Linked DNA regions of Homo sapiens. The protein of the gene in region 7 purifies or fractionates together with the protein of the main gene of each other region. This does not show direct contact. Each region holds a gene or a part of one and is shown on either strand. Other genes may lie near its edges. The genes, in order: TRPM7, CSGALNACT2, SIDT2, TMX1, GALNT12, C1QL1 and PNLDC1.

Region 1 (3,500 bases), on a different chromosome or scaffold from region 7:
GAGTCATGAATCTTTTGGCAATAGGGCAGATAAAAAGGAAAAAATGAGGCATAACCATTTCATTAAGACAGCACAGCCCTACCGACCAAAGGTAAATTTATTTAAATATTATTCTTTCTGGGTTTTTATTTTCTTCTTTCTAAATTACTTAGTATTATTAAACAAAAAAAACTAATTGATTTAGTAAGAATTACCTTTCGTTTTTGGATATGTCCTAGAATTGTCATTTTCTCACACACAGAGATATTAATTATAAGTTAATGATTCTGTTCCTTTTTTTTTTTTTTTTTTTTTTTGAGACAGGAGTCTTGCTCTGTCACCAGGCTGGAGTGTAGTGGCACAATTTTGGCTCACTGCAACCTCCACCTCCCAGGTTCGAGTGATTCTCCTGCCTCAGCCTCCCGAGTAGCTGAGACTACAGGCACCCAGCACTACACTGGCTAATTTTTTGTATTTTTAGTAGAGACTGGGTTTCACCATGTTGGCCAGTATGGTCTCGATCTCTTGACCTCGTGATCCATCCTCCTCAGCCTCCCAAACTGCTGGGATTACAGGCGTGGGCCACCGCGCCCAGCGTACATTTTCATATTTAGGTATGATAATAACCAAATTAAAATGTTTTAATAAATGTTTACCTGACTCCTTTCATTCCAGTTTTACTTGATTAAGAACATGTATAACAAAAATGTTATCTAACCCTTTATTAAAATTATGTTCTATTAGAATATTAGTTGAAATATTTAGGCCCTTAAATTTTGGAAAATGTTTATTGCAAAGGCATTTTTGTTGAAACAGCATTTTCATAAAATGAATTATGAGCTATAATAAAAATCAAGTTTATAAAATTTATGCTATTGTGCAGTTTTATGGAGCTGAATAATGTAAAGATATTTTACTAAAATTTTCACTGACATAAATTTCATATGGCCTTATTATAATGAGCTTTATAACTTTATTTTCCCTGGAAGATTGATACAGTTATGGAAGAAGGAAAGAAGAAAAGAACCAAAGATGAAATTGTAGACATTGATGATCCAGAAACCAAGCGCTTTCCTTATCCACTTAATGAACTTTTAATTTGGGCTTGCCTTATGAAGAGGCAGGTCATGGCCCGTTTTTTATGGCAACATGGTGAAGAATCAATGGCTAAAGCATTAGTTGCCTGTAAGATCTATCGTTCAATGGCATATGAAGCAAAGCAGAGTGACCTGGTAGATGATACTTCAGAAGAACTAAAACAGTATTCCAAGTAAGTGGTATTTTATCATTTGAAAACATTTTAAAAATTCAAAGTAGGTATTGTTTGAGTGGCTGTTACAGTGCCACGTACTTAATGGTGATGTATTTATATGTATAATCTTATTGGTACAATTGACAGAAAATTATATAAGTATATATTTTTTTAATTAAAAGAAACTTTCTGCCTCTATGAAAAAGAGGTTATTATATTTGCAACTCAAGAATTAAATATCTCAGCAAGAAAGAAGAAATGCAGCCTGGGCAACATAGGCAGACCCCGTCTCTACATGAAATTTAAAAATTAACTGGGTGTGGTGGTACTTGTCTGTGGTCCCAGCTACTCAGGAGGCTGAGGTGGAAGGATCACTTGAGCCTGGGAGGTTAAGGCTGCAGTGAGCTGTGATCATGCCATTGCACTCCAGCCTAGGTGACAGCAATAGACCCTGTCTCGAAACAAAGAAGAAATGCCAGAATTCATTTTAATTTTTGCAAATAGTAGCAATTGGATTAGAAAGTTCCATTTGAATTGGTAAGGAAAGGGTGGAAGTGAAGTTGGAGCTGTGTTATAAGAAAATAGACTGAATTCAACTGGGAAGGCACTTCAGAAGCTAGAACTACATACACAGAGTAACGACATAGTTCATAAAAGTTTACAATTTACTTAGAGGGGCAGTGTTGGAATATTAAACTGGAAAAGTAGTTTGTAGAAGTTTTCTAATATATACTAAGACCTCCGGCTCCCCAAGTGGGGTATTTAGAGGGCAGTGATAATTGTTACTGAAAATAACTCTTTAACAGGGATCCTATGGTTACTTAGTGGGACTTCAAGATTCAGATGTTTTTCATAATTAGGTTAGTCCCTAGTCACATTGTTTTTCCTCTCTACCAGGTACCAACTGTTTTCTGTGTTTGAAATACTACATAAACTTTTTTGAACAGAGCATTGTAGCATTGTGAGTTTTGATTCCCTTTGAGATTATAGTTTGATTTCTAGGACCGGGAGAATGTGCTCTGGATTCACCTTCTCAATCTTGTACATAATGCGACATATTTTAATATTTTGTGATTTCCACATAGATGTAGATGTCTGAAAACAGAGTTATGGTTTTAATGCCTCATAATTCTGTAAGTGTGTGTGAGAATATTAAAAAGTAGGAAGTATTAATGTATATAAGAATAGTGGTTTAAAATTGCAGTTTGTTAATCTGAGTATATTTTGGCTTTTATCTTTTTATAGTGATTTTGGTCAGTTGGCCGTTGAATTATTAGAACAGTCCTTCAGACAAGATGAAACCATGGCTATGAAATTGCTCACTTATGAACTGAAGAACTGGAGTAATTCAACCTGCCTTAAGTTAGCAGTTTCTTCAAGACTTAGACCTTTTGTAGCTCACACCTGTACACAAATGTTGTTATCTGATATGTGGATGGGAAGGCTGAATATGAGGAAAAATTCCTGGTACAAGGTATACTTTAGAAATAATTTGATATAAAGCATGTGATTAGATAAAAAGAACAGAAGAATTAGTCTAAATGTGTAGTAAAATGCCTTGATGTGTGAGTGTAATGGTGGGGGGTAAAGAGGGAGCAAGATGGATGATTGGCATTTCATCCCAAGTGGTATAATGGGCTTCTTTTTTCCTCTACTTAACTTTTGAATCCTTTTCAGGTGTCTATAATGATTATGGCCTCTCTTTGAGCTAGAAGGGGAACAAATGGCAAATATTGGAGATTATGGCCCCTAGCAGCCTTGAAAAAAGTTACTACTTTATGAAAAGATTATTCCCAAATTCTGAAATTCAAGACCTATCTACTAATTTAATAATCTGTTACTTTTAAGTTACTTAAAGTATATTGGATGAGTATATTGATATACCCATTATAGATAAGTATATCCATGTGGCCTGTTTTTATGATTAAAAATTTGGGTAAAATGGCATGTACCTTTGGTTTTGTCATGGTGATAGATACTGCTTTGAACTTTGCTTTTTGTTATCTTATATCTTTTAAAATAAGGTGCAGAAATGTAGGAGTCAGAAATCAGGCAAATAGTTTAACCATAGGCCACTGAATAACCAACAGAAAACCTGTTACACAATTACAATTTCTTCATGCTTTGGGATTTTGCAAGTAATAAGTAAAATTTTAGAAATAAACCTTTTTGTTTATAGAGGCACAAGCTGAGTAATCACATTATGACATGGAACACTTGCAAAGAGATTTAGGATAAAATTAAGGACATAGCACCTTTATAAGGCTTG
Region 2 (3,500 bases), on a different chromosome or scaffold from region 7:
AAGAGGATTGTGTTTAATCTGTACATTAATTGGGGAATATTACCATTTTAGCAATATTAAGCCTTCCAATCATGAGTGTGGTGTCTTTCTGTTTATTTAAATCTTAACTTTCTTCCAACAATGTTTTGTAGTTTCTATGAATACAAGTCTTGCAGTTCTTTTGTTAACATTATTCCTATTTTATTCTTTTTGATGCCATATTGTATACAGGATTGTTTTTTTAATTTCATTTTCAGATTGCTTGTTGCTAATGTAGAGAAATACAATTGATTTTTGTATATCGATATTGTATCCTACAACTGGCTGAACTCATTTATTAGTTATAATAGATTTTTAGTGAATTCCTTAGGATTTTCTGCATACAGATCATATCATCTGCAAATAAGGATAGTTTTACTTCTTCCTTTTCAATCTGGATGCCTTTTATTTCATTTTCTTGCCTAATTGCCTTGGCTACAACCTCCTCTAGTACAATATAAATAGAAGTGACAAGAACAGACATCCTTGTCTTATTCCTGATCTTGGGGGAAGGCATACAGTCTTTCATCATTAAATACAATGTTAGCTATGGGTTTTTTGTAGGTCCCTTTTCTTAGATTAGGAAGGTGTCTTCTAGTTTATTGAATGGTGTTTGGTTTGGTTTGGTTTGGTTTTTTGAGATGGAGTCTCGCTTTGTCGCCCAGGCTGCAGTGCAGTGGCGTGATCTCGGCTCACTGCAACCTCCGCCTCCCAGGTCCATGTGATTCTCCTAACTCAGCCTCCTGAGTAGCTGGGACTGCAGGTGCATGCCACCACCACACCCGGCTAATTTTTTGTATTTTTAGTAGAGGCGGGGTTTCATTGTGCTAGCCAGGATGGTCTCTATCTCCTGACCTCGTGGGATCTGCCCACCTCGGCCTTCCAAAGTGCTGGAATTACAGGTGTGAGCCACCGCACCCAGCCCCTATTGAATGGTTTTTATTAGGAAATGGTGTTGGATTTTGTCAAATGCTTTTTCCATGTCTGTTGAGATGATCAAGTGAATTTTGTCTTCTATTGATATGGTATATTGCATTAATTGATTTTCAGATGTTAAACCAACCTTGCAGTCCTGGGATAAATCTTATTTGGCCATGATGTATGATTCCTCTTATATATTGCTGGGTTCGTTTTGCTAGTATTTTGTTGAGGATTTTTGTATTTATATTCATATAGGATATTGGCCTATGGTTTTCTTTTAATGTCTGGATTTGGTAGCAGGATGATACTGACCTTATAGAATGCTTCCTCTTCTATTTTTTGGAAGAGTCTGTGAAGATAATTCTTATTTAATAATAATAATTCTTATTTAAATGTTTGCTAGGCTGGGTGTGGTGGCTCACGCCTGTGATCCCAGCACTTTTCGAGGCTGAGGCGGGTGGATCACCTGAGGTCGAGAGTTCAAGACCAGCCTGACCAACATGGAGAAACCCCATCTCTACTAAAAATACAGAATTAGCCAGGCGTGGTGGTGCATGCCTGTAATCCTAGCTACTCGGCAGGCTGAGGCAGGAGAATCCCTTGAACGTGGGAGGCGGAGGTTGCGGTGAGCTGAGATCGCGCCATTGCACTCCAGCCTGGGCAACAAGAGCGAAACTCTGTCTCAAAAAAAATAATAGTAATAATAAATAAATGTTTGGTACATTCCACCAGTGAAGCCTCTTGGCCTGGACTTTTCATTGTGAGTAGTTTTTTTATTATTATTAATTCAATCTTTTGTCATATAAGTCTATTCATATCTGGTATTTCTTCTTAAATCAGTTTTGTTAGTTTCTATCTTTCTAGGATTTTGTCCATTTTATTCAGTTATCTTTTGAAGAGATTTAGATAATAATGAGCAAAAATCTTAGTTACCAATGTCGTTAACATTAATGATGTTTTTCATTGCTTTGTATAAATCCATATTCCTTTCTGGTATTATGTTCCTCTGCCTAAAAGACTTACAGTACAGGTATGATGGTGATGAATTCCTTTAGCTTTTTATGTAGAGAAAGTATTTTGCCTTTTTCAAAGATAATTTCTCTGGGTATAGAATTGTAGGCTGGCATATTTTTCTTTTTAGTTCTTTAAAGATCATTGTTCCACTGTCTAATTACTTTCAGTTTTCAAAGAGTAATCTGTCATTATTATCTTTTGTTCCTTGTATGTGATGTGCATTTTTCATGTGGCCAGTTTAAAGATTTTCTCTTTACATTGGATTTGAGCAATTTGATTATCATGTACCTTGCTATAATTTTCTTTATGGCTATTTGGGATTGGTTGAGCTTCTTATGTGTGTTTATAGTTTCCATCAAATTTGGGAAATTTTCAGCCTTATTTGTTTAAGTATTTCTCCTGACTCCTTCCCCCTTCTTTGGGGACTCCAGTTACATGTATATTAGGCTGTTTGAAGTTGTCACAGAGCTTATCAATGCTTTGTTTATATTTTTGATTCTTTTTTCTTTCTGTATGTTGCATAGTTTCTTTTGCTACATCTCTAGTTTACTAATATTTTCTTCTAAAATATCTAATCTGCCATTAATCCCATTCAGTGTATTTTTCATCTCAGACACTGAAATTTTCATCTCCTGAAGTTTAACTTGGATCTCTTTTATGTCATTCATACCTCTACTTAAATTTTTGAACATAAACATCATTTTAAAAATACAGTTATGATAGCTGTTTTGGTGTCCTTTTTCTGCAGATTCCCACATCTGTCAGTTCTAATCATTGGTCAGTTTTAATTGTTGATTTTTTTCATTATGGATCATATTTTTTTATACCTGGTAATTTTTGTTGAGATGCCAGATATTGTGAATTTTATTTTGTTGAGTACTGGATATTTCTGTATTCTTATAAATATTCTTAAGGCTTGTTGTGCTATTACTTGGAAATAATGTGATCCTTTCAAGTCTTGCTTTTAAGATGTATTGGCAGGATTAGTGCCATGTTTAGTCTAGAGCTAATTATTTCCCACTACTGAGACAAGATTTTTTTGAGTGCTCTACCGAGTGCCCTGGGAATTCTGAGGTTTTCCAGTCTGTCTGTTGGGAACATGCACTAATCCTGGCCCTGTATGAATGCTGGGTTCTGTGTCCTCTAATTTTGTGTGTGGTCCTTTCCTTAGCCCGTTAGTTGCCTCATAAGCCTTTACTTATCAGTGCTCTGCCAAATACCCATGGGATATCCTATTCAGATTTCTGGAGTTCTCTCTGTGTGCAGCTGTATCCACTCTGGTACTATATGCTTTAATCCTAGATACCTTGGTCTCTTCAGACTATGAGCTGCATCCCATGAACTCAGGGAATCTGCTGGGCTCTGCTTAGGTTCCCCTCCTTGTGTGGCTCAGAAACTAAGGCAGTAAGCTGGCAACCACTTGTTTCTTGTTTCTCTGGGGATCACTGTCCTTTGTTACCTGATGTTAAATATCTTGAAAATCATTGTTTCATATTTTGGGTTTGTTGGCAGGAAAAGTTGTTTGTTTGTTTTTGGTTGTTTCAAGA
Region 3 (3,500 bases), on a different chromosome or scaffold from region 7:
TCCTTCTCTACTAAAAATACAAAAAATTAGCCGGGCGTGGTGGCGGGCACCTGTAGTCCCAGCTACTCGGTAGGCTGAGGCAGGAGAATGGCGTGAACCTGGGAGGTGGAGCTTGCAGTAAGCCGAGATTGCGCCACTGCACTCCAGCCTGGGCAACAGAGCAAGACTCCATCTCGGAAAAAAAAAAAAAAAAGAGAGAGAGAGAGAGGCACCCTCTGGCTGGGCACGGTGGCTCATGCCTGTAATCCCACACTCTGGGAGGCCAAGGTGGGCGGATCACCTGAGGTCAAGAGTTCAAGACCAGCCTGGCCAACATGGTGAAACCCCCGTCTCTACTAAAAATACAAAAATTAGCTGGGCATGGCGGCAGGTGCCTGTAATCCCAGCAACTCAGGAGGCTGAGGCAGGAGAATCATTTGAACCCGGGAGGCGGAGATTGCAGTGAGTAGAGATCTTGCCACTGCATTACAGCCTGGGTGACAGAGCAAGAGTCCATCTCAAAAAAAGAAAGAGAGGCACCTTCTTTCCCCTCCTATCACAGTCCCTTAGGGCCCCATTTAATCATTCAGTAAATATTTATTGAGCACTGAGTAGGGGCCTGGTACTTTCCTGCTAATTTTATCTGCTAATTTTGTGCTAGCCCTCATAACTTAGTGAGATTAACTGGACAAATTTTACTCCCTCTGTTATAGAGACAGGGAAACTGAGACTCAATCTTATAGCAGTGTTTCAATGACAAATTAGGGTATGTTTCTGAATATGAGATTAAGAAACATCCTTCAGAATAAATAAGATTATAACTATGCTAACAAAGCAAAATTAAAGCTCTTTCTTACAATCAGGTTACACTGCTGATAAGTGGCAGAAAGTGAACTGGACCTCAGTTCTTCCATCTTTAGTCATGAACTCTCTGTACCACATCACACTGGAACTCACCTCCCGGCCCTCCCCATCTAGAAGCCTGCCAAGAACACTCCCCGTTCCTACCCCACCAGCATATCTGCATCCTCATCACCCACTTCAGGGCACACCCTATATCCCAGGTCTGAAAGCAGGAGCCAGAGAGGCTTGTCCATCCCCTCTCAGCCACCTGCAGCACTCACACGTGACTGCTTGAGACACCAGCACTGACAGGGTTTTCTGGCGGTGCCCTTGATCGACCGGTTCATCTGGAAGTAAAATGTCAAAGTGGTAAACTAGTTGCCTGGAGCTTGGCTAGAGTCAGTGGGATCAGGCCTTTGAGAGACTGGAGCCAAAAACCCATGTCCTATCAGGTCCACCAATCAGCCACGCAGGCTCTTCTTGCTCCCAGAAAGTGACCAAGACCTCCCCATCCCTAGCCAGGCCCAGGGCACAAAATGTACCTTCTGCGAAGGGGTAGAAAGGCAGGGAGCCCCCGCAGGCTTGGTCTTCGGTCTTCACCACCACCACCACATAAAAGCTGTTGCTGGGGAAGTCTTTGCGCTGCAGGATGATGATGATAAATATCTTCTTCATCATCATCATCATCATTCTTTTCTAAATACTTGTTCTGGGGCCAGACATTATGCTAAATTCTTCATAGATATATTTTACTTAATCCTCACAAGATTTTTTTTTTTTTTGAGACGGAGTTTCACTCCTATTGCCTAGGCTGGAGTGCCATGGCATGATCTCAGCTCACTGCAACCTCCGCCTCCCGGGTTCAAACAATTCTCCTGCTTCAACCTCCCAAGTAGCTGGGATTACAGGCGTCCATCACCACGCCCAGCTAATTTTTATGTTTTTAGTAGAGATGGGGTTTCACCATGTTGGCCAGGCTGGTCTTGAACGCCTGATCTCAGGTGATCTGCCCGCCTCAGCCTCCCGAAGTGTGGGATTACAGGCGTGAGCCACTGCGCCTGACCTTTTTTTTCTTGAGACAGAGTTTCACTCCTTTTGCCCAGGCTGGAGTGCAGTGGTGTGATCTCGGCTCACTGCAACCTCTGTCTCCCAGGTTCAAGTGATTCTCCTGACTCAGCCTCCCGAGTAGCTGGGATTACAGGCATGCGCCACCATGCCCAGCTAATTTTTCGTATTTTTAGTAGAGACGGGGTTTCAGCCTGTTGGCCAGGCTGGTCTTGAACTCCTGATCTCAGGTGATCCGCCCACCTCGGCCTCCCAAAGTGCTGGGATTACAGGAATGAGCCACCGCGCTCAGCCCTCTTATTGTTACAATGAATGAAGTAGGTATGACAGCCAGAAGGGGGTACTCTACTCTTTCCCATCCCCAAGAGCAACTGGGATTATGGTACAACTCTCATATATATCAGGGGACTCAAAGTCACAGGGACTGGAAGGCCAAAGACTCAGTCGTGTGTAGGATAGGAATGGGCAGAGGAAGAAGAGCTCAAGTTTGGAAAGCTACACAGCTTATCGCCCAGCCACACCTCCCACGTGGCCACATGCATTTCCTACCTGTACGGTGATGGCCGCCTTCTTGGTCATCGTCTGGTACATGCCGATGAAGGCTACGTTGTTGTCCAGGTCATAGACAGGACACTGCAGAGGGGCGGGAGAGGCAGATGGATGGGAACCTGGCCTGCCCCTCTCTTTAGCAGCCCTGCTGCCTGCTGGGGAAGAGCAAAAGGGCAGGCAACTCACCAGCACATCCTGAATGGAGATGACTGAGCAGGGGAAGGCCTTGTTGGAGGTCACCTTGACAATTACCGAGTCCACGCCTTCAGGGAACTCATACTTGAAGTACTGAGGGTGCAGGAAGGAAGGGAGAGCCCCATCTCATGAGGATGCTCTCTTGGCCCCTCTAGAAGGGAATAGTCCCCTATAAGCGAGGACCCAGAATCCTCTGAGGGGTGGGCAGTGGAGGCTCTCCGAGGAGACAGGCCTTGATCACAGCAGCCCCTTTCTCTGTATACCATTCCCTTCAACCTCAGCAGGGCACTCAGCAGAATGCCAGAGAGGCAACCAGACTCCATGTCTCTGTACAGTCCCATGCTGTCTGTCCCTCACCATGTCAGGGCCAGAGCTCCTGTTTCCAGAGAGCCCTCCATGGAGAAAACAGCCAATTCAAAAGGCCAAGCAAAGACCGCTGGCCACTCCCATTCTCATATTCAAGCTCCCCCATTTCTCCTCTCGAGCAATCAACAGGGAGATGTTACCTGGGGCTGTGCTGCTGTGGTATTGAAGCTGAACTGCTCCCCAGTCCTGCAGGGCAGAGAAGAGCCCCCACCAGTCACCCCCGGAGCCTGGGGAAGAACCAGCCCCCGTGGTCCCCTCACTCTACCCTGCAGACCTGAGCACAAAATCGTCCATGCGGCTGACCCGGAGCTGGTATGTGGTGTTGACTGGTGACAGGGTGGACACATCCACGTAGAAGAACTGAATCTCCGACTCATTCTTGGTGGGGGGCTGACACAGGGTTCGTTCCACTTTTTGGTAGAGGTACTTGCGCTGAAACCTATGGCCCGAAGCAGGGAGATAGGATGTGAGCACTGTCCCAGCCGGCCTGCCCCTCCAGAGGA
Region 4 (3,500 bases), on a different chromosome or scaffold from region 7:
CTATTCTAATAATTTTTATATAATTCTTTTAATATGTGTATTACACATAAGGCTTAAAAGTACTTTCCTGAGATTTATCTACTTACTGTATTTCATAGTTTCATTACTTGGAAGAATAACAGTAATTACATTTTAAGGCTTATGATTTAAAAAAATGTAACCTCATTGTTAAATTGGGGGCTAAAATGTCATGAGTAGGTAAATAGTATAATTTGCTATTAATACTTGTACATTGCTAATGCTTTTGAATGTTAGAATTGACTGTAAAGTGAAGTGAAAAAATAGCAAAATAAATATTAAATTATTTCTCAGTGCTGGATAATATTTAATTCTGATTCTCTTTAGTTGTAAAGATGGTGAATTTAGGCGCTATCAGGGTCCAAGGACTAAGAAGGACTTCATAAACTTTATAAGTGATAAAGAGTGGAAGAGTATTGAGCCCGTTTCATCATGGTTTGGTCCAGGTTCTGTTCTGTAAGTATGAGGGCTTTTTCTCTTACCCATTTCATAATTAATTGGAACAGATAATTATATTTTATGTAAAGCATTCATACTCAGTTTGTTTCTTGAGCTGTTAAGGTATATCCACATTTATTACATGTTTGATTTTTTTTTTTTTTTTTTTTTTGAGATGGAGTCTTGCTCTGTCGCCCAGGCTGGAGTGCAGTGGCGCAATCTCGGCTCACTGCAAGCTCTGCCTCCTGGGTTCACGCCATTCTCCTGCCTCAGCCTCCCGAGTAGCTGGGACTACAGGTGCCCACCGCCACACGTGGCTAATTTTTTTGTATTTTTAGTAGAGACGGGGTTTCACTGTGTTAGCCAGGATGGTCTTGATCTCCTGACCTCGTGATTTGCCCACCTCGGCCTCCCAGAGTGCTGGGATTACAGGTGTGAGCCACTATGCACGGCCTACATGTTTGATCTTTTTAGTTTGACCTTCTAAGTCAAACATATTTTCATGCTTCTTGAGTTAGAGAAGGCATTTTATAGAAGTAAGTTGTACACCTTTTCAGGAATATTTTAGCTTGCTAGATTTGGTCATATGTATCATCAAAAACTAAATGCCCCTAAGAGTCTTCACAGTGTAATGGGTAAAGCTATCACTCGAGTGTAATAATTTGAATGAGTAGGCTCAAACTTGTACTCATGCTACCTCCAGACTTCAATTTGTCTTTTAATGTTCTGTCTCCATAGAGACCGTCAATAATTGCCGATACCAACTAAATTAATTACATAAACTTCAACTCTTGATGTCAAGCGACTGAATTATGTTTGGTTGGTTATTCCACCTGTCTGATAACTTCTTATATGAATAGTGTGTATAAACGGTGACCGTAATAGTGTGCCTAAGCACTGAGCTTTATAGATATCTAGAGGGTAGATGAATTTCCTCGTAGCAACTGGCTATGGAGTGATAAGGATTGGAAGTAGCAAGCATGCTTTCTGCTTTGCTGTTGGAGTACAAGGCCTCACTGGTCATGTGAGAGACCTCTGGGAACAGTGAGTTTTGCTGAGGTCACCATGGACTGATCCTGTGTGGCCATCTGTCTCTTCCTGTCCTCTCACCACACTTACCTTTGGAGGATAGGGAGTTGGGACAGTAATCACATAAGAGAAAAATGCTCTAGATTCTGGGGATGGGAGAAAGATTAGCCCTGTTAACACTCACCCATTGAACTACCATGCCCAACTCAATTTTGGATCCTACTGTTTCTGAAATAAATTACTGCAGACTACAGTGAGGCTATACAGTGCTTTATGTTTCAGTTCCTTGTTTCTCTTCTCACTTGGCTTTTAAACAACAGAAGCAACATGATTAAAATACCTTTCTGTGTCGAACTAAAAGTATAACTGATTTTTGTTCTCTGAAATCTCATCTCATAAATGAATCTTGTCCTTCCAGTAGAAGAAAGTAGTTGCTTGTAAGTCTATTTTCAAGCAGCTACAATTGGGAACTCACAGACCTTTCTTATTTCTGAAACATGCCTTTTTAAAACTGGCCATTTAATTATGTAAAATACTAATTTTTGCTTATATGATGACTTAGCATTTATTTCCTATGTAATAATTTTGTATATCATTAAAAGATGTCAAACTAATGCTCTTGTAAATTTTAATTAATTTCAATAAAAAAGAGGGATAGTTCTTAAATGGAAAGAATTGGCTTGACAATTGTTTCCAGTCCTTACTTTAGCCTCCCTTTGGTCTTGCTTTGAAGGCTTTTAAGGGTGAGTAAGAGTTGCCTTTTCCAACTGGTTTCATGGAACTTGTAACCCTTTACTCAGTGTATTGGAGAAATCATCAGATGAAATACAAAATATTAACATCAAAACAGTGGGAGAAAAGGAAAAAAATACTGTCAAGTATTTTTATTTATGAGGCTGTCACATGGTAGTGTCAATTTAGAAACAGTTTTCATGAAGAAGGCTTATTACAGGCATGAAATCAGTGATGTGTCACTAGTCTTGATTAACAGCAATAAAATCTGTCATATTGGGGAAATTATAGAGTAGAAAATAGTATGTATAGACAAATCTGTGTATGTTACTCAGTTTTTTAATCATCTCTTTTATTTTTAGGATGAGTAGTATGTCAGCACTCTTTCAGCTATCTATGTGGATCAGGGTATGGACTAAAATATTTTTATCTTAAACATTTTTACCACTATCACTTTAACAAAAATGAACAGATTTTTAGTTTTTTTTTTTCTTTTGATTTTAGACTTGCCATAACTACTTTATTGAAGACCTTGGATTGCCAGTGTGGGGATCATATACTGTTTTTGCTTTAGCAACTCTGTTTTCCGGACTGTTATTAGGACTCGTAAGTATTTCATTTTTGGAGTGCTAGGAAGAAAGATATTTAAAAATGTGATTATTTAAAATAGTTACATTAGCTGTGGCATATATTCTACATTCAGATTTCTTACAATGTTTATTTTTACAGTGTATGATATTTGTGGCAGATTGCCTTTGTCCTTCAAAAAGGCGCAGACCACAGCCGTACCCATACCCTTCAAGTAAGTATATTTTAAAATGTTTATTTTTTATTCACGATAGTCCTATTCATTTCTGTAATCACAATCACACATTTCACAGGTTGCTCTTCCAGCTTAGAATTCTAACTGTGGATTGTTGGTCTTTATCAGCTATGGCATAAAGGAAGGTAGAGGAGATGTATATTTCATATAAGAATGTAGCCCAGTGGATTTTGGAACATTGTTATTTTCTTGACTCTTATATTATGGGGAATTTTAACATTGCATATAGCATGTAGCTATTTAATAATATTTATTTGGTGTCGTTTTATAAGTGGAGTATATTCTACTCTTGAAGTCTTTCATTAGTATACCGGCCGCCACATTTGAAGATTATTCTTTGAATGCCAGCCAACTGTAAGTTTTTTCTGGTAGGATATTGGGAAAAGCAATCCCTATAGTTGATTTAGGATGCCACTGACACTGAACTGTACTACAGAACAATTTAAATAATTACAAGCAT
Region 5 (3,500 bases), on a different chromosome or scaffold from region 7:
ATTGAAGCACACCGGCTATTTAAACACCCATTAGTTTACAATGACACTCAAGAAGAGAAAAAGCCAAAAAAAACAATGAGCCACAACAAAAAAAAAAACAACCCAGTAGATACAACTGGAGGAAACTAAAATACCAACTCTTACTCTGAAAATAAGCAAATAAAGAAAAGACTTAAGAATTTGTTATGCCTTGGCCGGGCATGGTGGCTCATGCCTGTAATCCCAATAGTTTGGGAGGCTGAGGCAGGCAGATCACCTGAGGTCAGTAGTTCAAGACCAGCCTGGCCAACATAGTGAAACCCCGTCTCTGCTAAAAATACAAAAAAAAAAAATTAGCCAGGCATGGTGGCAGGTGCCTATAATCCCAGCTACTCGGGAGGCTGAGGCAGGAGAATTGCTTGAACCCATGAGGCAGAGGTTGCAGTGAGCTGAGAGCGCGCCATTGCACTCCAGCCTGGGGGACAAGAGCAAGACTTTTCTCTCAAAAAAAAAAAAAAGAATTTGTCGTGCCTTTTCTGTATGAATTCTAAAACTCACATATACCAAATTGCTTTAGTTAATGAGGGAGTGTTCTTCTTTATGAAAAATTTCAGCTAATAAATGTGGAAGAAATGAAAGAGAAAAATCACCATTTGGCAACTCCATTTGAAATAATGGGCCTAGGCAATGGTTATCAGTGGCTACTAAAAACATGAGACAGAGGCTGATGGGGGTCTTATAATGACTGGTCCAGGTGAGGGATACTCCATTAACCCACTGGTCAACCTTATCACTAAAGATGACCATACTTCCTATGCTCCTGATATGACACAACATGAACACATAACATCACCCACAAAGTGTTCTTGCCAAAAAGGTGGATCCTGACTCTAATCAAACCTTTAGAACTCACTTCTATCTTAAAGAAATATGGGGGAGAGAGGCACAACTTGAAGACACCACAAAGAAAAAAATAGCAATTGCAAGAGTGAGACACTCCACAGGTAACATATTGTTTTTTCAACAAGTTAAAGATATTAACAAGAAAAAGGAAGAGGGCTGCCTTAGATTAAAAGAGATTTAGGAGACAAGACACAACCATCACATGCAATGTGTGCACCTTGTTTGGATCCCAATTCGAATTAGCCAGCCACTCAAAGAGAAACTGGAAAAGTTGGGGGAATATGTATTAGAACTAGACATTAAATGATACCAAGAAATACTTGTTCATTTCTACGGTTTTGTAAGATAATGTCCAAATGTTATGAAAATGCATAAAATGCAGAGGAGAGAAATGACACAATGCCCGGGATTTGCTTAAAAAGAGGAAAATGTGGAGGTGAAGTACAGGAGAGAGAAAGAGATAAAGAGAGGCAGGATCTTGAAAATTCTAGAATCTCAGGGATGGTATTCATTATACCATTCTCATACCATTCTCTCTGCATTTCTATATGTTTGAATATTTTCATAATGAAAATAGAATGTAACATGAATATCCTGCTTTATATGTATCAAAGACTTCTAGAATGGAACACCAGCACTTCTGATCAACACATCACAGCAGAGGAGACCTTGCTAAGCTGGTGTCATTCCCAGCAAAAACAAAAGACACTGGACATTTTATCTGGTCTCATCCCAAAAACATTTTTTAGGTTTTTTGAAATACTCGAAGTGACTCCCCTATACCCACTATTGCCTCTGTAGACTTCCAAACTTGGAATTATTAACTAGTCCAGCCATTGAGACTAGAAGTAATATGATAAGGCGTTGGTAAAAACTAGGACATGGAAACACCAGATAAGCCTCAGTTTCCTTACCTACAAAATAGTTGTCAATTTTGAGATGGCTTCCAGCTCTGACATTCTGCACCTACGGCCCAGACGCTCACAGGGAGAAAGAAGGGCAGTGGATAAAAAGGTGGTGGGGGGTGGGCAGGCGGGTGGGAGTGGAGGAAGCCAGTGCTCCCCATGACGTGGCCTTTCTTGCCCAGGATTTGCAGAGCAGACCCAGAGGCCAGGGAAGTCCCTGCCTGCCGTGGGCCCACCACCCTCACTCACCATCCCGAAGAAGCCAGGCCTGTCCTCAGGCACATGCAGTTCTGGATACACAGTCTCCAAGAACCACTTGAAGTCTTTACACTGGAGCTTGTCCCGGAGCTGCTTCCTCTCTGTCACATCCCCAAAAGGTTCCTGAGAAAACAACAAAACAGTGAGACCCCATGGGTCCTAGTGCTTCCTTTCAAAGCCCCTGTGTTCACTGATGCTCACTTACTAACCACCAGCCAGCTTTGATGGAGCATTCGTCGCATGCCAGGCCCTGTGTGGAGCACAGAGGATAGAAAACATCCTTGCACCTAATTCTAGCTTCTAGTATGAGAGGCTGTCACACAGACAATTCCATTCCTAGGTGCTCTGTTGGCAGGGGGGTGTGACCAGGTGCACAAGGGTAGAGGACAACCCGCCTGCTGATGGAGTGAAGGAGCCAAGCCCTGGGGCTGCACTGGCATCTATGGATCCCGGACCTGTGACCCATGCTTGTGATCAGAAGTCATCCTGAAACCCAACCAGGGAAATGTCAGTTTCACCGAAACATATGCCATGACTTTCTGGTTTACTACTAATATCTGAATATCCACTTTCAAACACAGGTAAATATTCTAGATGTAATCATGTTCTCAGTATGAAATAAGCAAAAAGAAATACTTATGCAAGTTTGGTTTTATGGGCAAAACTAATGACTGAGAGCTTTTGAATAATTAAATACAGCAAGCCTCTATTTAGTATCGCAAATGTGCAGCCACAAGAAAAATGCTGAGTGCAGAAATATTACCGTACCTGCACTGTCATGTTAAACAATTAAAAGCTGACAAGTTAAATATTGAACAAAATGGTAATAATAAGTACATGTTTGAATAAGATTTCAGATTTCTGCTATTTCCCAGAGTTCTTTCACTGGTGAAAGTCACTGCGCCCCCAGCTTCAGCCAAGTATCCATTTAGCACTTGGCCTTGGACATGAAGCCTAAGGGTGCATTCAGTGCCCCCCTAAAATATTCTCTGGGAACCCTCAGGAAAAGGGAACTATGGGTTCCAGACTGTGCATGAGGAAAGAGTGGGTGTTTCTACTCTATGGTGCTGGGCAAGACGGAGGAGGCAGAAGCAAATGACCATGGAGCCCAGAGCCAGAGAGGGGCTGAGTGGGAGTCCAGCTGAGAACCCATGGGCTCTGCAGAGCAGAGCAAGAGGTGCGCTGCAGAGTACAGGCCCCAAGCCCAGTTCTACCTCCTATCAGCCACAGGGCCTGGACAAGTTCCTTCCAACAGCGTCTCTCTGAGCTTCAGTTTTCTCATCTATAAAATGAGAATTTTATTGCTACCCTGCAGGGTTGCTGGAAGGACTCAGAAGAGACTTCCATGAAGTGGCCTGATGAGAAGCCTTAGAGCAAGACCTTCTTGTATTGCCAAGCAGCCCTACTAGTTATGCAAATGCAGGGCAAGCAGGCACCCTGCCATGGAGCATGCAG
Region 6 (3,055 bases), on a different chromosome or scaffold from region 7:
GGCAGCACTGCAGGTCAGCTGTGCCAGAGCTGCTGACTCAGCCGCGATGCTGCAATGAAGAGGACCCGACATATTTGCATGAGGGCCTCCCTTTAAAGCCCTTCTCCAGCCCCTTCTTTTCCCTCAACCTCTTCTTCCCAACCTGAGAAGAAACTCTTTGTGTGCTTAGCTGGGAAAACTGGTCTAGTTAAAGGTGGGAGGGAATAAATGAAGGGGGAGATGCTGTCTGCCAAGGAGCTCAGTTTCTCTGTCTAGAAAATGGATGAGAAGACTTTGCCTCACCACTGCCACCTCTGTAAAAGTCTTTTGATGATAAAGAAAAAAAAACATTAGATCTTGATGGGGCTTTGAGTTATTAGGGAAGAGCTGAAAGCAAACAGCCAACTTCTGTATTGTTCCCTGAGCCCTAATCCTGGTAATATTTATTATTACACATGCATTTCATTATCTTTGCTAATAAATTACTACTAATAACAATTATTTTTATTGCCCAGATTAATTTAGCCTTAACTCATTAAAACAGTGTGCTCCTTAATAGCCAAATCCATTGGAACAGAGTCATCTGTCATCAGGAATCTCCTGGTGATGTGACTGCATCAGAACTGTTATGCTTATGTTTATTATTTATTCATCACCATGATTGTTGCCGTAATTATCCTAATTATCCATGGAGGCAGAGAGAATTTATGCCCTTCCATCCTTAGATGGTGGGGGATCCAAGAATGGAACCCAGGGGTCCCAATTCTCTGCCTGACTGGAGACAGTTGAGGCCTGCAGCTCCTCCTGGGGTCCAAGGGGAAGTGTGGGGAAATGAGGTTGCCAAGGAAGCAGGAAAGCAGGTTTGGGCCTTGTTATGAGGGAGCGCTGTATAATCAGCTCCTCAAGGGCTGCCAGGAGGGGAAACTGAGGCAATGGTCTGACCAAGGGAACTGGGTGAGAGGGCATCCAGGAAACACGTTCCTGCCCTCAGATCAATGCTGGGGTCTTGGGTGTACAGATGTGGCTCCCATAGGGGAGCCAGCCTGGCCCATGGGGGACACTTGCATTTTCATACATACATTAACTGCATTCCCACTGTGCCAGGCACTGTGCTCTGTGTTGTGAAAGGTATTAGGGGCCAGAAAGGATAGCCAGGGGGCCATCTGCCACCACCAGGGGAGAGGCTGATCTCCTTAGGTCTTTTTTCTTTTTTGAGACAGAGTCTTGCTCTGTCACCCAGGATGGAGTGCAGTGGTGCGATCTTGGCTCACTGCAACTTCCACTTCCCAGGTTCAAGTGATTCTCCTACCTCAGCCTCCCGAGTAACTGGAATTACAGGCACCCACCACCACACCCGGCTATGTTTTTTTGTATTTTTAGTAGAGACAGGGTTTCACCATGTTAGACAGGCTGGTCTCGAACTCCTGACCTCTGGTGATCCGCCCGCCTCAGCCTCCCAAAGTGCTGGGATTACAGGCGTGAGCCACTGTGCACAGCCTTCTTAGGTCTTTATACCACCACCTTCAATTTATATATGCCAGCACCTCTCGCCACACTCAGATTCTGTTGTCAAACCCCTGGCCCATTGGTGATACTCACCTCCCCACAGCCTCCTACCCTGGATAAGCAGCACCCTGACCACAGGCCCTGGCACATCCTCACAAAGCCCCCTGCCCAGTTTATTAATTTTGTGTCCTCTCCAACCCACCTGAACTGTGGATCTTGGAGGCAGCTGCAGGCAACTCACCACACCCAGGGCCCCACTGCCAACCCAGAGTCCTTTCCCCAGGCTCCTTGCATCCTAATGGCCAGGACTTGGTGCCATCAGGGGTGCTGATGCAAGGCTACCCCTAAGGACTGGGGCCAGTGGGCCTCAGATAAGGACAGAGGGAGCCTCAGTGCCAGGCATGAAGGTGGTGCTCCCCATCCCGAACTTGCCCGGAGAGGAGGCAGAGCCCAGATTCAGCTCTGCCTCCCTAAAGAAATTCTGGAAGCCTCTCTACAGGCAGGAAGCCAGGAAGGAAAAGCGCAGTGCTCAGGGTGGCCCCTGGTTCTGAAGTCACAAGAGATACAAGCTTCTCTCTTTTGTTCCCATACATTGTCTGGTCCTGCCATTTTTTTCTCTGCTTATTTAAATGTCCTTGTCCACCTCTGAGCTGGCTTTCCCCTACACTTGACCTTTTATATTCTCCCTTGTGGTATCTCCTCACTTTGCAGACCAAGGTTCACCATCTTCTCCCCCTGCATCAGGTTGGTCTGCACCAGGGTAGGCCCTACTGAAGCACTCCCTCCCAGCCAACACATTTGGGGACCAAAGTCATCAGCTGGGCTCCCAGCCCACCTTTAACACAGTATTCGCTGGGGCGTGTGGTTGTATGTTATGAATGTTCCCCCTGCATAGGCCATGAGGTCTTGGAGGGCAAGTGGACTGAACTCCTACAAAGCCTCAAATCTGGCTCCTAGTAGGGGCTCAAAACTAACAAGTGGGATGGCTAGTGAGATCAAATGAGTCTCTTGGGCAATTTGGAAGAAGTCATAAAGGACATGGGAGAGGGGGCTACGGGCCCCACTATTTCTCCTGGTTTTCTTTTCTTTTCGTTTTTATCTTTTCTTTTCTTTTCTTTTTTTTTTGAGACAGAGTCTCACTCTGTTGCCCAGGCTAGAGTACAGTGGCGAGATCTCACCTCATTGCAACCTCTGCCTCCTGGGTTCAAGTTATTCTCTTGCCTCAGCCTCCTGACTAACTGGGATTACAGGTATGCACCATCACGCCCAGCTAATGTTTGTATTTTTTTTTTTTTTTGAGACGGAGTCTCGCTCTGTCACCCAGGCTGTAGTGCAGTGGCGCGATCTCAGCTCACTGCAAGCTCCGCCTCCCGGGTTCACGCCATTCTCCCGCCTTAGCCTCCCAAGTAGCTGGGACTACAGGTGCCTGCCACCACGCCCAGCTAATTTTTTGTATTTTTAGTAGAGATGGGGTTTCACCGTGTTAGCCAGGATGGTCTTGATCTCCTGACCTCATGATCCACTTGCCTCGGCCTCCCAAAGTGCTGGGATTACAGGCGTGAGCCACCGT
Region 7 (3,929 bases):
CCAGGCTAAATTTCAATCAGCTTTGCAGAGCCCACAAGTGAAGCTCCAGGTTGAGCAAAGAGCCCAGCCGAGTCGAGATCCCCACAGAGAAAAGTTACCGAGAAAGCTGAGTGTAGTGCAGACCACTGTGGAGGACACAGTGTCCCACTGTGCCAACGTCAAAGGTGCACACTGTGGCTGCGGGTCATTGTTTCTAAATGCACGTGGATGTCTTACGGTTTATAACACTTGTCAAAAATGTCCCCAGTGCACACGACTTCCCCTCTTCCAAGCTTCACATCCTTCCTTTACTAAACTTAGGAAGGCCATTTCTCAGAACTAAGTCAACAACAGCCAATAATAAGCCATTAGTTTTTCCCCCAGAAATAACGTCCCCTTTTCTTCATCTGGTGTCCAGCTCCTAGCACAATGACCTGCTCCTGAGACATTAGCTTAAATCTCGAGGTGCTGACTGCTCCGCCTGCATTTATAGCAAGAAAAGTTCTGACCACACATACAGGTACGATATCTAAGGACTGATTTATCATTGAGAGTGTTGACAGAATTTCACGTTCAGGACATAACAGAATTTCTAGAAAAGACCAAACAGATCCATCTGCAAACAGAATCTGATTTACACGAACACACCCAGCACACCTCCCAGAGAGCATGGGGACCCGAGGGTGGCCGCAGGAGGCCTCGCTGCACTCAGGTACCAGATCTTCCAAGGATGAACGCGAGAAGGGCCCAGGCAGTCACTATGCCACAGACTCTGCAAGACAATGACACGTGTCAGTGGCCGGGGCACCCAGCAGGCCGAGAGGCACCGACACAGGCTTGCCCCTCCTCCTTCCCAGCCCCGTGCACTCAGATGTTCTTTCTTGCTGTCACTCTCCCGACGACAACACTGAACTTCTGCCTCTCGAGGTTAGGCTGGCTCTGGGATGCAAACCGCAGGTTGAAAGAAAAAGGGTTTGCCTCGGAGCTCACTGTGCTTCCTCAGCAATGCTGTTTTCTAACGGATGTGCCCCTAACCCGCAAGCCAGAACCTCACCCAGCTCAACTGACAGCAACTCTGCCTTTCCAGCTGTTCAGGACTCAAACCCTGGATTCGTACTTGATCCTTCTCTGGTCTGTCGCTGACTCCACCCCGCTGCCCCTGGCTGCACCGAGCTGTGACCCAGCTGAAGCATCTCCTTCCTGACTGCTCTCACAGCGTCTCGCCTCCACAGTCTACCCCAACACGGAAGACAACCTGAGTCGGGTTATAGACCTTCTTGCTGTAACTTCCGCGATTCCCTCTCTCCTGAGAGAAGCCCACGTCCTCCCTGGGTGGCCCCCAGCTGGGGGGCACTGGTTCCTTCTCCTGCATCCCCCTCCTTGCTGTTTTGCTCACAATGGCCTCTCCCCGTGACACTCCGGGCACCTCCTGACTGGAAGGCTCCGTCCTGCTGCCCCCTCCGCCTGGCTCACTCCAAGTCTCTAATGAAGACCCCCATCAGCTCCTTTGAACTGCAGCCTGCCACCCACTCCTGACCCTTCTCTCATTTTTAATAAACACTTGTCACCCAACACATTATAGGGTCCATTTGTTTATCCTGTTTGTCTCCCCCAGCACGTGAGCTCCACGAGAGCAGGGATTTTCTGCTTCACTGACGAGGCCCTAGAACTACGATGGTGCCCAGCACAGCAGGTGCTCGACAGACACGCGGCATCACTGAAGGACATTCAGGGCACCACACTCGTCAACACAACCCCCTTGGCAACACACACCAGCAAGTGAGCTGTGCTCGAGTCAGACCATGCTGGGATGCTGGGACCCCGGGCACTCCAGGACCCCAGGACAGGCAGGTGGCCTCAGCCTGTCACTTACTGGAGCAGGCAGTTGACGTTTGGGGAGTGCCTCCAGTAGCGGTACAGGGAGATGCACAGGGTCGGGTGGTCCCGGTACTCCTTCAGGATGTTCCGCGCACTGCCAAAACAAGTTTGCTGTGGTCAGCCAGGCAGCAGGATGGCGCCGCCTGCTGTGATCAGGCGGGTGGAGTCAGAGAGATACAGGGATGAACGCACGAGGGGTGGGGGACGCGGACTTAGAGGCACCTACTCCTTAAACTTATTGGTCAGGAGTAAGAACTGGCTTCTTGTGAGTCGCCTGACATCAAACTTGCAGAGATTCTGAAACTTATGGTAGACTTGCTGCTCGCTGACCCCAGGCCACCTTTTGACGCTGAGGATGAGGATGGGAGGTCGGATACTGGGATAATCTGGACCAGAAAAATTCTAGAAAACATGCAGAACACAAGAGATTTTCCACAGTTCTTCCTGACTTCTTATCCAGTCTGAAGATCTCAAAAGAAACTAGGAAAGGCTCTGCTTGGGGCAGGGAGGGGAAGAGAAGGAAGGATGAGTCCATGTTGGCTTTAGTGGAGAAACATGAGAGGAAAGAAAAACCCAGCTCTCATCTCACCGACCACCGAAATCCCTCTCACGAGTCCCAGAGAGCACTGGCCGCTTCCCAGCAAAGCCTCTGAACTCTGAATGGGGCGAGGGGGCCAAATGAGATCTACTCACGATCTTTGGGACCCCCGCTCGGATGAGGTTCACTTGGTTCACGTAAGGAGCCAGCACGTCAAGGTACTGAGGAAAGGATGACTCGGGCACGGGGTCGATGCTGCAAGGACAGAAAACCCCAAAGCTGTCGGGCGCACAGAAGTTCATCCACTTCCTCGGCCACAGCCAAGAATCCGGTGACAGAACAGAAGGACACTCCCTCGGACGGCTCTCCCTCCCTCCTGCCCTCACAAGTCTTGGGGCTCTGGTTGGGTGCTTCCCCAGCTGGCAAGTCTAAAAGCATTCTCCGTGGCCACATAGAAGAAGAGCTTCCAGACAGTCACCATCTGCTGGTGATGGTTTGGTGAGGGTCCCACTGGTGACAAACAGCAATAGGCTCAGAGAATCAGTGCGAGGCCACTATTCAGAGAAAGCCCCATGCTGTCCCCCCTTGGTAAGACATCACCTTTGATTCCAAAAGGGCATCCCTCATCCCACAGCCTCCTCCCACTGCCAGTGCCCCCTCTGTCCAGGGAGCACACACACCTGAGCGCAGGGCCCCGGCAAAACCACGGGCCACACAGACAGGCAGGGAGGGCTTTTAGGCCATGAGGATTAAAAGAAATAAAAGATGTGTGACACCAGGCACTGAGGTGCCCCACCACTGCTAGCTCCTTCACTGTCCAGCACACACGTACTTACCAGGGGGCCCTTTAACAGTCAAACCACAAGAGAGGGGGTTAGGCTGGCACATTTAAGAAATAAGCTTCCCATCCGTGTGTCACAGAACTTTTGTATTTATAACATCCACTGCTAAAATGGACAAATATAGGCAGTACCCAAGTTAATAGATCATAGTCCAAAAAGATATTTCTACATCAATCCCAAAGCACACATTAGAATTTTGATGGGCTCCTTCACCTGGCTGGCTAAGTCCTACTTAACTAACGTGCATGCCAAGGACGGTGCTGTAGCGTGCACGCTGCTAATGTGTTTCTGGTGCCTACGTGCCCAGGGCTGCAGGCATCAAAGATGGTGTTGCCATGGGGAAATGCACTGAAGATTCCAATGTGGGGTTCCACTAATCTCTCCCTAGCCTATGTGCCCCCAACAAAGGATATGTCATTCATTGACCTGAACACTTTCTCCTCATACCTCACTGTTGCTTACATGGCTATAAGAAAGCAAGTGAGAGACAATCAAGCACACACCAGGCTGGGAAGGACTGAGACAGGTGTCAGAACCTAAGCCTAACCCCACTGCCTTGGCCTCCTGACATCTGCGGGGATGAGGGGGCCAGGACCCATACAGGCAGGCACAGGGGTGGTAGGAAGGGCTACTCCTGTGGCACAGAGCCATTTGTGGGCTGCTGCCCAGTCAGGGACAAGATTTCTATACCA

What was found.
Region 1: the proteins of PNLDC1 (region 7) and TRPM7 purify together in Homo sapiens (affinity purification with mass spectrometry; 2 studies listed by BioGRID and IntAct, with this or other methods). This does not show direct contact.
Region 2: the proteins of PNLDC1 (region 7) and CSGALNACT2 purify together in Homo sapiens (affinity purification with mass spectrometry; 2 studies listed by BioGRID and IntAct, with this or other methods). This does not show direct contact.
Region 3: the proteins of PNLDC1 (region 7) and SIDT2 purify together in Homo sapiens (affinity purification with mass spectrometry; one large-scale study listed by BioGRID and IntAct). This does not show direct contact.
Region 4: the proteins of PNLDC1 (region 7) and TMX1 purify together in Homo sapiens (affinity purification with mass spectrometry; one large-scale study listed by BioGRID and IntAct). This does not show direct contact.
Region 5: the proteins of PNLDC1 (region 7) and GALNT12 purify together in Homo sapiens (affinity purification with mass spectrometry; one large-scale study listed by BioGRID and IntAct). This does not show direct contact.
Region 6: the proteins of PNLDC1 (region 7) and C1QL1 purify together in Homo sapiens (affinity purification with mass spectrometry; 2 studies listed by BioGRID and IntAct, with this or other methods). This does not show direct contact.

What each region holds. Positions count from the first base shown.
Region 1 is NC_000015.10:50,610,298-50,613,797, reverse strand, and holds part of TRPM7 (transient receptor potential cation channel subfamily M member 7), read left to right. Parts: coding exon 1-91; intron 92-968; coding exon 969-1,249; intron 1,250-2,476; coding exon 2,477-2,705; intron 2,706-3,500. UniProt on the Homo sapiens protein: Bifunctional protein that combines an ion channel with an intrinsic kinase domain, enabling it to modulate cellular functions either by conducting ions through the pore or by phosphorylating downstream proteins via its kinase domain.
Region 2 is NC_000010.11:43,148,445-43,151,944, forward strand, and holds part of CSGALNACT2 (chondroitin sulfate N-acetylgalactosaminyltransferase 2), read left to right. Parts: intron 1-1,342; exon of another isoform or gene 1,343-1,699; intron 1,700-3,500. UniProt on the Homo sapiens protein: Transfers 1,4-N-acetylgalactosamine (GalNAc) from UDP-GalNAc to the non-reducing end of glucuronic acid (GlcUA). Required for addition of the first GalNAc to the core tetrasaccharide linker and for elongation of chondroitin chains.
Region 3 is NC_000011.10:117,181,743-117,185,242, reverse strand, and holds part of SIDT2 (SID1 transmembrane family member 2 precursor), read right to left. Parts: intron 3,437-3,500; coding exon 3,272-3,436; intron 3,184-3,271; coding exon 3,138-3,183; intron 2,725-3,137; coding exon 2,623-2,724; intron 2,521-2,622; coding exon 2,437-2,520; intron 1,465-2,436; coding exon 1,365-1,464; intron 1,170-1,364; coding exon 1,104-1,169; intron 1-1,103.
Region 4 is NC_000014.9:51,246,747-51,250,246, forward strand, and holds part of TMX1 (thioredoxin-related transmembrane protein 1 precursor), read left to right. Parts: intron 1-345; coding exon 346-474; intron 475-2,579; coding exon 2,580-2,625; intron 2,626-2,721; coding exon 2,722-2,823; intron 2,824-2,946; coding exon 2,947-3,019; intron 3,020-3,500. UniProt on the Homo sapiens protein: Thiredoxin domain-containing protein that participates in various redox reactions through the reversible oxidation of its active center dithiol to a disulfide and catalyze dithiol-disulfide exchange reactions.
Region 5 is NC_000009.12:98,838,670-98,842,169, reverse strand, and holds part of GALNT12 (polypeptide N-acetylgalactosaminyltransferase 12), read right to left. Parts: intron 2,169-3,500; coding exon 2,037-2,168; intron 1-2,036. UniProt on the Homo sapiens protein: Catalyzes the initial reaction in O-linked oligosaccharide biosynthesis, the transfer of an N-acetyl-D-galactosamine residue to a serine or threonine residue on the protein receptor.
Region 6 is NC_000017.11:44,962,249-44,965,303, forward strand, and holds part of C1QL1 (C1q-related factor precursor), read right to left. Parts: intron 1-3,055. UniProt on the Homo sapiens protein: May regulate the number of excitatory synapses that are formed on hippocampus neurons. Has no effect on inhibitory synapses.
Region 7 is NC_000006.12:159,817,276-159,821,204, reverse strand, and holds the end of PNLDC1 (poly(A)-specific ribonuclease PNLDC1), read right to left. Parts: intron 2,651-3,929; coding exon 2,551-2,650; intron 2,260-2,550; coding exon 2,084-2,259; intron 1,952-2,083; coding exon 1,853-1,951; intron 752-1,852; coding exon 688-751; 3' UTR 501-687; downstream 1-500. UniProt on the Homo sapiens protein: 3'-exoribonuclease that has a preference for poly(A) tails of mRNAs, thereby efficiently degrading poly(A) tails.